3 linked regions of the Homo sapiens genome follow. The protein of the gene in region 2 purifies or fractionates together with the protein of the main gene of each other region. This does not show direct contact. Each region holds a gene or a part of one and is shown on either strand. Other genes may lie near its edges.

Region 1 (3,652 bases), on a different chromosome or scaffold from region 2:
GAGGCCAAGGTGGGCAGATCACCTGAGGTCAGAAGTTCAAAACCAGCCTGGCCAACATGGTGAAACTCTGTGTCTACTAAAAATACAAAAATTAGCTGGGCCTGGTGGCGGGTGCCTGTAATCCCAGCTACTCGGGAGGCTGAGGCAGGAGAGTCACTTGAACCTGGGAGGTGGAGGTTGCAGTGAGCCAAGATCACACCATTGCACTCCAGACTGGGCAACAGAGTGAGACTCCATCTCAAAACAAAACAAAACAAAATATGGTAAAGGGTCAAGACCGAGGTATGTAGGCTGGGCACAGTGGCTCACACCTGCAATCCCAGCACTTTGGGAGGCTGAAGCAGGAGGATTGTTTGAGCCAGGAGTTCAAGGCCACCCTGGGCAACATGGCAAAATCCCATCTCTACAAAAAATACAACAATTAGCTGGGCCTGGTGGCATGTGACTGTCTGTAGTCCTGGCTTCGTGGCAGGCTGAGCCAAGAGGCTCTCTTGAGCTAGGAGGTTGAAGCCGCAGTAAGCTGTGATCATACCACTGTACTCCAGCCTGCACAACAGAACAAGACCCTTGTCTTAAAAAAAAAAAAAAAAGACCAAAATGTCCCCTTGCCATACTATTTGGATGGCAAGGGGACATTCTGACCAGCTTCAGAAAAAAAGTGAGAGAGTAGCCAGGGAAGGAATCTTGGAATAAAAAGTACAGCTAGAGAAATTAAGTGACTTACCTTAATGGCCTCTACTTGTTGGCAAATCATATTCAGTAAAGAATTCCGATCTTCTGTCCATCGAGGTGGTGTTTCGGGAGAATACTGAAAAAAAAAATAAAAATAACAAAACAGCATTTAAAACACTTAGAACAGAAACAATTTCACAATGAAATGATTCCATTCTTTCCTGTTTACCTTGTAACTTTTACTTGGTGATAGTGAATATTTGGTAGGAGACGGTGTAGAATGTTTTATTTCTGAATCTGCATTTCGCAAAGAACCATTTTTATAGAGAGGACCTCCTTCACTATAGTCTTCGAGTTCCTGCATGACTGAATTAAGCATCTGTTTTACAGACTCCAGGGGCACAGGCAACTAAAAATAAAAGACATTAATTAAGGGCTTTCATTTGCAAAAAATTCCAAAAGTAAAAACTCTAAAATGATATATTTTATCTTATTTACATTTTTGTCACTTTAATAAGCACTTTACACTTTAAATAATAATACACGTGAAAGTGTTTTTTAATTATCTTTTTTCTTTGTTTTTCTGTTGTTTTGTATTATTATTTTTATTTTTTTGTCTTTATTCTATTTTTTTCTTCAGGAACACAGAAAAGTGTTGTACAGTCTAACATCTTCTGATTCTAAAGTCCATGCTCTTTCTATTACTTCTGTTAACCATGATAATTGTAGAGGAATGTTAACTTGGAAAGCTTTTCCAAGTGAACAAAATAAGTTACTGATGTTTTCTAACTGATTTTCAATGGTGACAGAAATACAGATGCTACAATACACCAGACAACATAAATCCTAATAAAAGAGTAGTAACACAAATTAATCAACAAAACACTCAGAAGACTGAACATAATTTAACATCATCATGACAATCTCAAACAGCTGACAGCAAGAAAACAAGGGCGTTCATAATGGCTGATGACGATGAGAAGAAATGCTCTTAAGTTGTCAGCAACAACTTTCAATTTCAGCAAAGTTCATTAAGAATTAGTCCTGAGGTTATAATATTTGTTTTGATTACACTGCTAAGATAACAAAATCAATGTCTTATCTTAGAAATCTTTTCTAATTCCCCAAGAAGTACTTTTTAAGAGCATATACCTAGATTCCCAAGTTTAAAAAGACACACCAAACCTAAGACAAAGCAAGCAAATCTAAGCATTTAGACACACGCATCCCTTCTGTGCATTAATAACAACATATTACTGAGTATTTTTGAAATTACCAAAATATAAGACCAACGCAAAAACACTGACCAGTGGGTTATCAGTAAGAACGTACATACAACAACCTGCTACTTACTTTCTTGACCACTGAAAGATTTGAATCACCGTCATCTATAATCTTTATTAGGTAGTCCCTGGTCTTTGTCAGATAATTTCTGCATTCTTCTTGTTCTTCAGGAGAAAGGGCATCATTTTCAATGTCTTCTGCCTTCCTGTGAAAAATCTATACAAATAGTGCTTTCATGAAATCATTAGCTTTTTAAAACAAAAAACTTTCAGCTTGGCCACGCATGGTGGCTCATGCCTGTAATCCCAGCAACTCGGGAGCTGAGGCACAAGAATCGCTTGAGCCTGGGAAGCAGAGGTTGCAGTGAGCCAAGATTGTGCCACTGCACTCTAGCCTGGCCAACAGAGAAACCCCGTCTTTTAAAAAAAATAATAAATAAATAAATACAACTTTTAGCTCAAGTACTGCATCTACTTACCAGTGCAAGATTCCAATAAGAAACAACACTTTTTATAGATTCAAAAGCAGTCACAGCATCTTCTATATTTCCATTTACTGCATCCAACATAGCAAAAGTTATGTGTGCGTCTTCTTCATATTCAACAATTTCTGATGCCTAAACACATAGAATAGTTTTTAGTCAAATTGTTTATACTCAGAATATAAAACCCAAATGATTTTCCAAAGATTTTATATGATCTTAAGAGACAAACATCTCATTACTCTTCTCTGTCATATCTTATCTGTGAGAGCTAGTGAATTTAGAAAACAAGATTACCGTTAAATAACAAGGCAATTAATTTAAGCAGTTTATAGCTCCACGTCTTTGTTTATAAACTGGAAATTCCCATCTCCAATAAATTCATAAAGGAACTCTGTTACCTGAATGTCTACACTATGAAAATGTTTAAACAGAGGATCAATAGGTTCAGGAATACTGTTCTTCTTTATTATCTTCAACAATGGCAAAACTTTCTTCCAATAATGAACACTTCTCCCTATGTATTCTAGTTGACCATAAAAAGAATTAAGACCGCTGCCCTAAAAAAGAAAGTTAAAAGCACACAACTTTAAGGAACACGCATGATTAGATCTAAAGTTCATTTACAAGTTGTAAGAACTGGCTAAAATTTCAAGTCAAAACCAAATGGTACCTCAATAGTCATTTGTTCAACTTCCAAATACTGTAATAACTAAACCACCTTAATACCAGTGAACTCACTGCAACCTCTGCCGTGCAGGTTCAAGCAATTCTCCTGCCTCAGCTTCCCAAGTAGCTGGGATTACAGGCACCTGCCACCATGTCTGGCTAATTTTGTAGTTTTAGTAGAGTTTTTTTTTGTATTTTTAGCAGAGACGGGGTTTCACCGTGTTAGCCAGGAATGATCTCGACCTCCTGACCTTGTGATCTGCCCGCCTCGGCCTCCTAACGTGCTGGGATTACAGGTGTGAGCCACCGCACCCGGCCTCTACACTCAACTTTTAAATGCTTCTAATGATACCACTCTAACGTAGCAATCCAAACTACTTTTTAACAGTTGTCCTTTTTAGATAGCTGAAACCTGCCTCTTCTGTAGTGTCAGTTTGTTCAAAAGGCTGACCATCTACACCTAATGGTGACACAAAACACACCTTAAATATTTAGAAAGATCTATAATGGTCTTACCTACAAAGCCTTGTGCTAATTTTTTTTTTA
Region 2 (4,275 bases):
TTCTCTCTTGGGCCACTTGAAAGTGGATGTACCCATGGGATTTGCTTTGACCCAAGAGATGTGAGTGGAAGTGAAGCGTGTCACCTCGAGGCAAAAGAGTTGGGAGCCATTGAGACTGGCCACCCTCTCCTTCATCTCTTAGAGCAGCTGACAGCTCCCATATGGAGGCTGCTCCTTTATTCTCGTGGCAGGATGAGGGCATGTGGGGCACAGGGCACAGGAGAGCCATGGAGGATGTGCAGCATGGGCAGGAAAAGAGCCTTCAGTGGTGTACATTTCCATCGTTTGGGGCTGTTTCTTACCTACAGTGATACCTAGCCCATCCTAGCAGGCATGCACCATCTACCCCACACTCTGTGATGCAGACTAGCCTGCCGTCAGAACAGGAACTGGTGGTCAGACACACGTAGGTTTCAGTTCCAGCTCTGCCTCTTATTGACTGTAACCTCAGGCTTAACTTTCAGTCTCTGAGCCTCAGTTTCAACTCTGTAAAATGAGGTGGCTATACCATCTCAGGTTGCAGAGAGAATTAAATGAAATATAAGTGCATGTAGAGCATTGAACCCAGGGCCTGGCACACACAGTCAGTACTCAATGTTAGCCATGTAGCTTCATGATGCATACTGATTGTCAATATTCAGACAATCCAGTAAAGTATTACCAAAAATAAAAGTAAACTTATTTGCATATGTATTCTTTCAATCTTTATTTTTAAACAGGGTAAAACTATGCATATTCTTTCATAGCCAGTGTTTTTCTCTTCATAGTATATTGTTAAAATAATTTTATCTTGGACCGGGTGCAGTGGCTCACACCTATAGTCCCAGCACTTTGGGAGGCCACGGTGGGCAGATTACGAGGTCAGGAGTTGACACGAGCCTGGCCAATATGGTGAAACCCCATCTCTACTAAGAATACAAAAATTAGCTGGGCATGATGGTGCACACCTGTAGTCCCAGCTACTCAGAGGCTGAGGCAGAGGAATTGCTTGAACCCGGGAGACAGAGGTTGCAGTGAGCCAAGGTTGTGCCACTGCACTCCAGCCTGGGCGACAGAGTGAAACTCTGTCTCTCTCTCTATATGTGTGTGTGTGTGTGTGTGTGTGTGTGTGTGTGTGTGTATGTGTGTGTGTGTGTGTATCTATATAAATCTCAAAAATAAAAGATCATTTTTGAGATTATCATTTTAAAAGACAAGATAATGTTCAACTTAATGACTAATTTAATTATTACTATTGGACTTTTTGTAGACTGCACAGAGCATTCAAAACAAATGAAGGAGAATAAAAAATATGTATTACATGTTGTAAAATAAATGTGATGTGGTTAATTCTTTTATTCAAAATTATAGAACATATATATGTACTATAGAATGTATTTCTTATTATGAGTCATGTTAAAAAGTAGTTTAGAAGCTGTTGATTTGAATTTCCTTTTCAAATTTTGCAGGATAATTTTTTTTTTTTTTTGACAGAGTCTCGCTCTGTCGCACAGTCTGGAGTGCAATGGCATGATCTCGGCCCACTAAAACCTCCACCTCCTGAATCTAAGCAATTCTCCTGTCTCAGCCTCCTGAGTAGCTGGGACTACAGGCTCACACCACCATGCCCGGCTAATTTTTGTATTTTTAGTAGGGACGAGGTTTTGCCATATTGGTCAGGCTGGTCTTGAAGTCCTGGCCTCAGGTGATCCACCAGCCTCAGCCTCCCAAAATGCTGGGATTACAGGCATGAGTCACCATGCCCAGCCTAAACTTGGCAAGATAATAAATAACCTTTTTAAGTGTTGTTGGGCACTTGTCTGGTTGTTTTTCTTTAGGTTACCATGCCAGCAATGATTCCTTTTGAGTTTCTGACAGAAGATAGTGGTTTTCATCCAAATAAGTCAACTACTCTACCCCATCCCTAAGCCACTTGTATGGAAAGAAAAAGAGGAAGAAGCCAGTACTGTGACTGCGTAAGCTTCCCCCAGCATCACCCGCTATGAGATGTGTGGCAGCTGAGACCCGGGAACTGCTCAAGGGCACCAGGCCCCATCTGTCTGCACTCACTCACCTTCCTCAGGTACTCGCATGGGCATGTCACTGACTTTACATGCTGCTGCAGCTCCTTGGTGAGCTGGCTCTGGTCATGCGACAGGAACTGTGGGGTCAGGACAATAGAGAGCTTCACCATTTGCAGAATGAGAACAGGGGCTCATCATGAGTGCCAACCTATTAGATAATTTAAAAAAATAGTGTTGAATGAGTGGAAAAACAAGGTGATGTTTGAGTCTATAGTGGTCAAGGGCTTCAGAAAAGGACAGAACCAAGTTCAAATTCCTGTACTTTGAATTTCTACTTCATGCCATGCAAAATTACTTTACCCCTTTTAACCTCAGTTTTCTTCTGTGTGAAACAGGAACAATAGTTTCATTCGTCATTCAGTTTCTCTCAAGGTTTCACGAGATCATACCTATAAAACATCCAAGTCATTTAAATGTATCATCATTTCTGTCATAATTAGTGGGATCCATTTCACTATTATTGGATATACAGTTCTGTGCCTGAAACCTACAAAAAAAGAAAATGTTAAGTCTAAAAAGCATTAGTGATTTCTCATTTTTATATTACTAATTATAACCCTATTTAATCACACAAGGCCTTGTCCGTGGCAGGTGCTCAATAAACACTTGTCGAATCAATGCATGTGGGCTCCGGAGCCACACTGTTTAGATTCTATTCTGCCTCCACCACTTATCAGCTGTGTGATCTGGGTAAGACAATTCACCTCTTTATGTCTGCACTTCCCTCTCCATAAACTATATATAATGAGAATCCTTAGCTCATTCGGTTGTGGTGAGGGGTGAATGATTTGGCACACAATCCCAGCTACTCGGGAGGCTGAGGCATGAGAATTGCTTGAACCTGGGAGGCAGAGGTTGCAGTGAGCCAAAATTGTGCCACTGCACTCCAGCCTGGGCGACAGACTGAGACTGTGTCTCAGAAATAAAAATAAAAATAAACAAAAATCAATGAACTAAAAACCAATTTCTAGTGGTTTCTAATAAGGAAAAAATGGTTCAAAAAACTGCTAAGCGAGATCAAGCAAAACAAAAAAATCTATTACGATAATGTTTTTATAACTGGTATTTAAAACATTGTTGATTCATTCTTTATTTTTATTTTGAGACAGAGTCTCACTCTGTCACCCAGGCTGGAGTGCAGTGGCAGGATCTCCGCTCAGTTCAAGCAATTCTCCTGCCTCACCCTCCCGAGTAGCTGGGATTACAGGCGCCCGCCACCACGCCCAGCTAGTTTTTGTATTTGTAGCAGAGACCGGGGTTTCACCATGTTGGCCAGGCTGGTCTCCAACTCTCGATTTCAGGTGATCACCCCCTGCCTGGGCCTCCCAAAGTGCTGGGATTACAGGCTTGAGCCGCCGCGCCCGGCCCTTGTTTTGTTTTCTAGATTGAAGAAAGGTTTTTCTCAGAAGTTATCTAGAATTTACACCGATTTGGTAAAGCACACTTTTGTGAACAAAGGTGGGTGGAAGCGTTTGTTTTTCCTCCCTATCTGATCCTTCTAAAGTTTGGAAACTATTCATAAATATTCTTATTTTCATGTACATATGTTCTCTTTATAAGCAGGCTACAATCAGAAAGATTGGTTATATTATCAAGGCTTTGACTGAAACATCCTATTTAAGAATATGCAGAAAATTCCTGGCTTCGAGTTTGCAGCCTTACGTTACAGTCAGGGGGAAACTGTCACTCCCTGCAGGCCTGAGAACCTTAGAGCTTTTCGGGGAGCAACTTGGCAAGGGGGGGTCCCAGCAGCTGCTCGCGGGCCAGGAACCATGGGGCACAGCCCCGGGCGACCCTCGGGCCGGCGGGGGCCTTCCGCTTCCTGGCGTCTTTCTTCCCCGCCCCGCCGGCTGCTGGGGAAGCGGCGGGCGCCCAGTGCCTGGAGGTCGCTCCCTCGCCTCCTCTGGCTGCGGGAACGGAGAGGCGGCGGCGGCCGGAGCAGGGTGGGCGGCCTGAGCCGAGAGCCCGGCCGGCCCCCGCGAGGAATATGGCGACCTGCGGCGACCGGAGCAGCAGCGGCGTCAGTTGCTGCACCGCCGACTTCTTGGAGCAGCGAAAGCGACTCGCGAGAAGACGCCGCCAAGTGGAACCCGGGCCCTGCGGCCCTGGGAGGGGGCAGCAGCGACACAGCCATGAAGCCCCGGGCGCGGCGCTGGGCGCCAACGAGAGCCACGGCAACCTCCAGACGGCGCCACAGCAACCTCTAGGCAGT
Region 3 (3,652 bases), on a different chromosome or scaffold from region 2:
CATGTGCCATCATGCCTGGATAATTTTTTTTTTTTTTTTTGAGACTGCGTCTCACTCTGTTGCCCAGGCTGGAGTGCAATGGCGCGATCTCCACTCACTGCAACTGCTGCCTCCCGGATTTTTTTTTTTTTTTTTTTTTAGTAGAGAAAGGGATTCACCATGTTGGCCAGGCTGGTCTCGAACTCCTGACCTCAGGTGATTCACCCGCCTCGGCCTCCCAAAATGCTGGGATTACAGGTGTGAGCCACCACACCTGGCTTTGGTTCCCTTTAAAGAAGGGTTTCTTGGCCAGGCACGGTGGCTCACGCCTATAATCCCAGCACTTTGGGAGGCCGAGGCTGGTGGATCACGAAGTCAGGAGATCGAGACCATCCTGGCTAACACGGTGAAATCCCGTCTCTACTAAAAATACAAAAAATTAGCCAGGTATGGTGGCATGCGCCTGTAGTCCCAGCTACTCGGGAGGCTGAGGCAGGAGAGTTGCGTGAACCCAGGCGGCAGAGCTTGCAGTGAGCCGAGATCGCGCCCGCCACTGCACTCCAGCCTGGGTGACAGGGCGAAGATTCTGTCTCAAAAAAAAAGAGAAGGGTTTCTTAACCTTGGGCCTGTGGATAGAAGTCAGCAGGTCTATGAACTTGGGGGAAAAAAAATCAGCCTTTTTTTACTAACCTCTAACTGAAATGTAGCTTTTCCTTTGATGGAAACCTAGGCGACGGTCCCCAACAGGACCTGCAGTACCTGTGATCTGTCGACAGTAGGGATCACAGGTATTTTCATAACACACCCTAGTTGCTGCAGATATTACAGCTCGCAATTTCGGGGGTTGCTGGACCCACCACTACATCTTAGTGAATGCGTTAAGAAAGCAGCTCACAGAACGCTACATCACAGATTCTTTTTTTAAAATACTCTGACAGCTGTTTTCTAAAATAATCAGCTTCCTTTTTGATCTTATGGATTTTATTTTATGCGCTTAAAGCCATTATGCTGAGAAGTCTGTAGGCTTCTCCAGAATGCCAAAGGGGTCCATGGCAAACAAAAAAAAAAGGCTAAGGACTCTGGTTGATTAAAGAAAACATGCTGAGCAAACTGACTTAAGACTCTGGACACTGGATGGGGCTAGCTGCTGAGCAGGGATAGGACACCGTGCCGCCTGCCGTGAGCCATGGAGGAGGTTGGCAGCAAAGCCAGGCCCAGGATCCAGGGACTCCAATTCCTGCCCCCGACACCTTGCCTCCCTGGTCCAGGACCAGCCCCGCCCCCCCACCTCACCTTATCCATCATGGCAAAGATCCGGTCCACCCTCTTCTCAGGAGTGTTCTCCTCCTCTGGGAGCTCCACGGTATTCCCCTGCAGGGACGGACAAGGCGGGGGTGGGCCCTGGCACTCTGGGCTTTGGGCTCTTGGCCACGCATTTGCCCCCCAGACCTGGCAGTTTCCAGATGAGGGCCGCCCCCCTCTTCTTTCCCCTCCCCATCCCTGCCATTGTGCCCTGGAACATCCCACACCCCAGCCCCACTATCTACCAGCTTGTGCCTGCCTGCCCAGGCAGAGATGTACAGAACGGCTCAGCCAGTGACCCCTGCTTCCACCCTGGGCAGGAGCATGGCTGCACAAGTGCTCTCTCTCTGTCTCTCAGTCACTGGCTTTGCCCCTCCTGCCACCCCTAACCACACGAGACCCGGCTTCTCACCACCATCTGGTAAATGGCATCCACAATGTCCAGCATCTCATTCCTGGTGATGTAGCCATCATTGTCCAAGTCGTAGAGCTTGAAGGCCCCTGTAAGCAAGCAGCACTGCTGAGTGATCCTGGGCTGGGGCAGTGGGGAGGGGTCTTCAACTCGCCCCTCCTCTCTGTACCCCAACATGAAGTCAGCGACCGGATGGCCCATTCCTCATCAGGTCAACTAATATTTACATCAGGATAGACAGGGACAGACACACACACACCATTGCAACTAGGGTTAAAAAAAATAAGGCTGGGCATGGTGGCTCACACCTGTAATCCCAGGACTTTGGGAGGCTGAGGTGAGCAGACTGCTTGAGCCCAGGAGTTCGAGACCAGCCTGGACAACATGGCAAAACCCCGTCTCTACAAAAATACAAAAATTAGCCAGGCCTGGTGGCGGTGCCTGTAGTTCCAGCTACTTGGGAGGTTGAGGTGGGAGGATGGCTTGAGCCCAGGAGGCGAAGTTTGCAATAAGCCGAGATCAAGCCACTGCACTCCAGCCTGGGTGACAGAGCAAGTCTCTCTCCCTCTCTCTCTCTGTATATACATATATATATACGTATATATATATACACATATATATATACGTATATATATATACACACACACATATATATATTTATAGATACATAATTTATATTTATGTATATATATTTATAGATACATAATTTATATTTATGTATATATATTTATATACATAATTTATATTTATGTATATATATTTATATACATAATTTATATTTATGTATATATATTTATATATACATAATTTATATTTATGTATATATATTTATATATACATAATTTATATTTATGTATTATGTATATATATTTATATATACATAATTTATATTTATGTATATATATTTATATATACATAATTTATATTTATGTATATATATTTATATATACATAATTTATATTTATGTGTATATATATATTTATTTATTTATAAATTAAAAATAACAGGGCCAGGCACAGTGACTCACCCCTATAATCCCAGCACTTTGGGAGGCCGAGGCGGGCAGATCACCTGAGGTCAGGAGTTGGAGAACAGCCTGGCCAACAGGATGAAACCCCTTCTCTACTAAAAATACAAAAATTAGCCAGGTGTGGTGGCGGGCGCCTGTAGTTCCAGCTACTTGGGAGGAGGTGAGAGGATGGCTTGAGCCCAGGAGGCGAAGGTTGCAATAAGCCGAGATCGAACTACTGCACTCTAGCCTGGGTGACAGAGCAAGACTCTCTCTTTCTCTCTCTCTCTCTCTCTCTCTCTCTCTCTCTCTCTCTATATATATATATATATATATATATATATATATATATGATATTTTATATATATATTAAATATTTTATATATATATATATTAAAAATAACAGGGCCAGGCACGGTGGCTCACACCTGTAATTCCAGCACTTTGGAAGGCCAAGGTGGGTGGATCATCTGAGGTCAGGAGTTCGAGACCAGCCTGGCCAACATGGCGAAACCCCATTTCTACTAAAAACACAAAAATTAGCCAGGTGTGGTGGCACATGCCTGTAATCCCAGCTACTTGGGAGGCTGAAGCAGGAGAATTGCTTGAACCCAGGAGGCAGAGATTGTAGTGGGCCGAGATTGTGCCACTGCACTCCAGCCTGAGCAACAGAGCGAGACTCTGTCTATAAATAAATAAACAAATAAAATAAAGGGATGGGGCATTGGGCTGCCAGGGCCGAGGTATCAGTGGCTGGAGCTGAGTGCGTGGGAGAGCCCGGGGCCTGGGATGTTACCCAGAGGAGCACCCCTCTCCTTCCCCCAACTCCAGCCCCCACCTCCTCCCCACAGTCCACTCTGCTCCCACAATTATGGTGTGGCCTGCTACAGTCAACATTAGAAAATAAAATAGTGCATTGAGAGGAGGAGCTTTTGCATAAATAAAGTTCT

The links.
Region 1: the proteins of NPIPB6 (region 2) and RGPD5 purify together in Homo sapiens (affinity purification with mass spectrometry, with the first as the bait; one large-scale study listed by BioGRID). This does not show direct contact.
Region 3: the proteins of NPIPB6 (region 2) and NCS1 purify together in Homo sapiens (affinity purification with mass spectrometry; one large-scale study listed by BioGRID and IntAct). This does not show direct contact.

What each region holds. Positions count from the first base shown.
Region 1 is NC_000002.12:109,825,221-109,828,872, reverse strand, and holds part of RGPD5 (RANBP2-like and GRIP domain-containing protein 5/6), read right to left. Parts: intron 2,998-3,652; coding exon 2,839-2,997; intron 2,573-2,838; coding exon 2,435-2,572; intron 2,173-2,434; coding exon 2,026-2,172; intron 1,082-2,025; coding exon 902-1,081; intron 809-901; coding exon 725-808; intron 1-724.
Region 2 is NC_000016.10:28,360,650-28,364,924, forward strand, and holds the start of NPIPB6 (nuclear pore complex-interacting protein family member B6), read right to left. Parts: upstream 2,860-4,275; 5' UTR 2,374-2,859; intron 2,212-2,373; 5' UTR 2,174-2,211; coding exon 2,054-2,173; intron 1-2,053.
Region 3 is NC_000009.12:130,220,780-130,224,431, reverse strand, and holds part of NCS1 (neuronal calcium sensor 1), read right to left. Parts: intron 1,783-3,652; coding exon 1,694-1,782; intron 1,351-1,693; coding exon 1,273-1,350; intron 1-1,272. UniProt on the Homo sapiens protein: Neuronal calcium sensor, regulator of G protein-coupled receptor phosphorylation in a calcium dependent manner. Directly regulates GRK1 (RHOK), but not GRK2 to GRK5. Can substitute for calmodulin. Stimulates PI4KB kinase activity.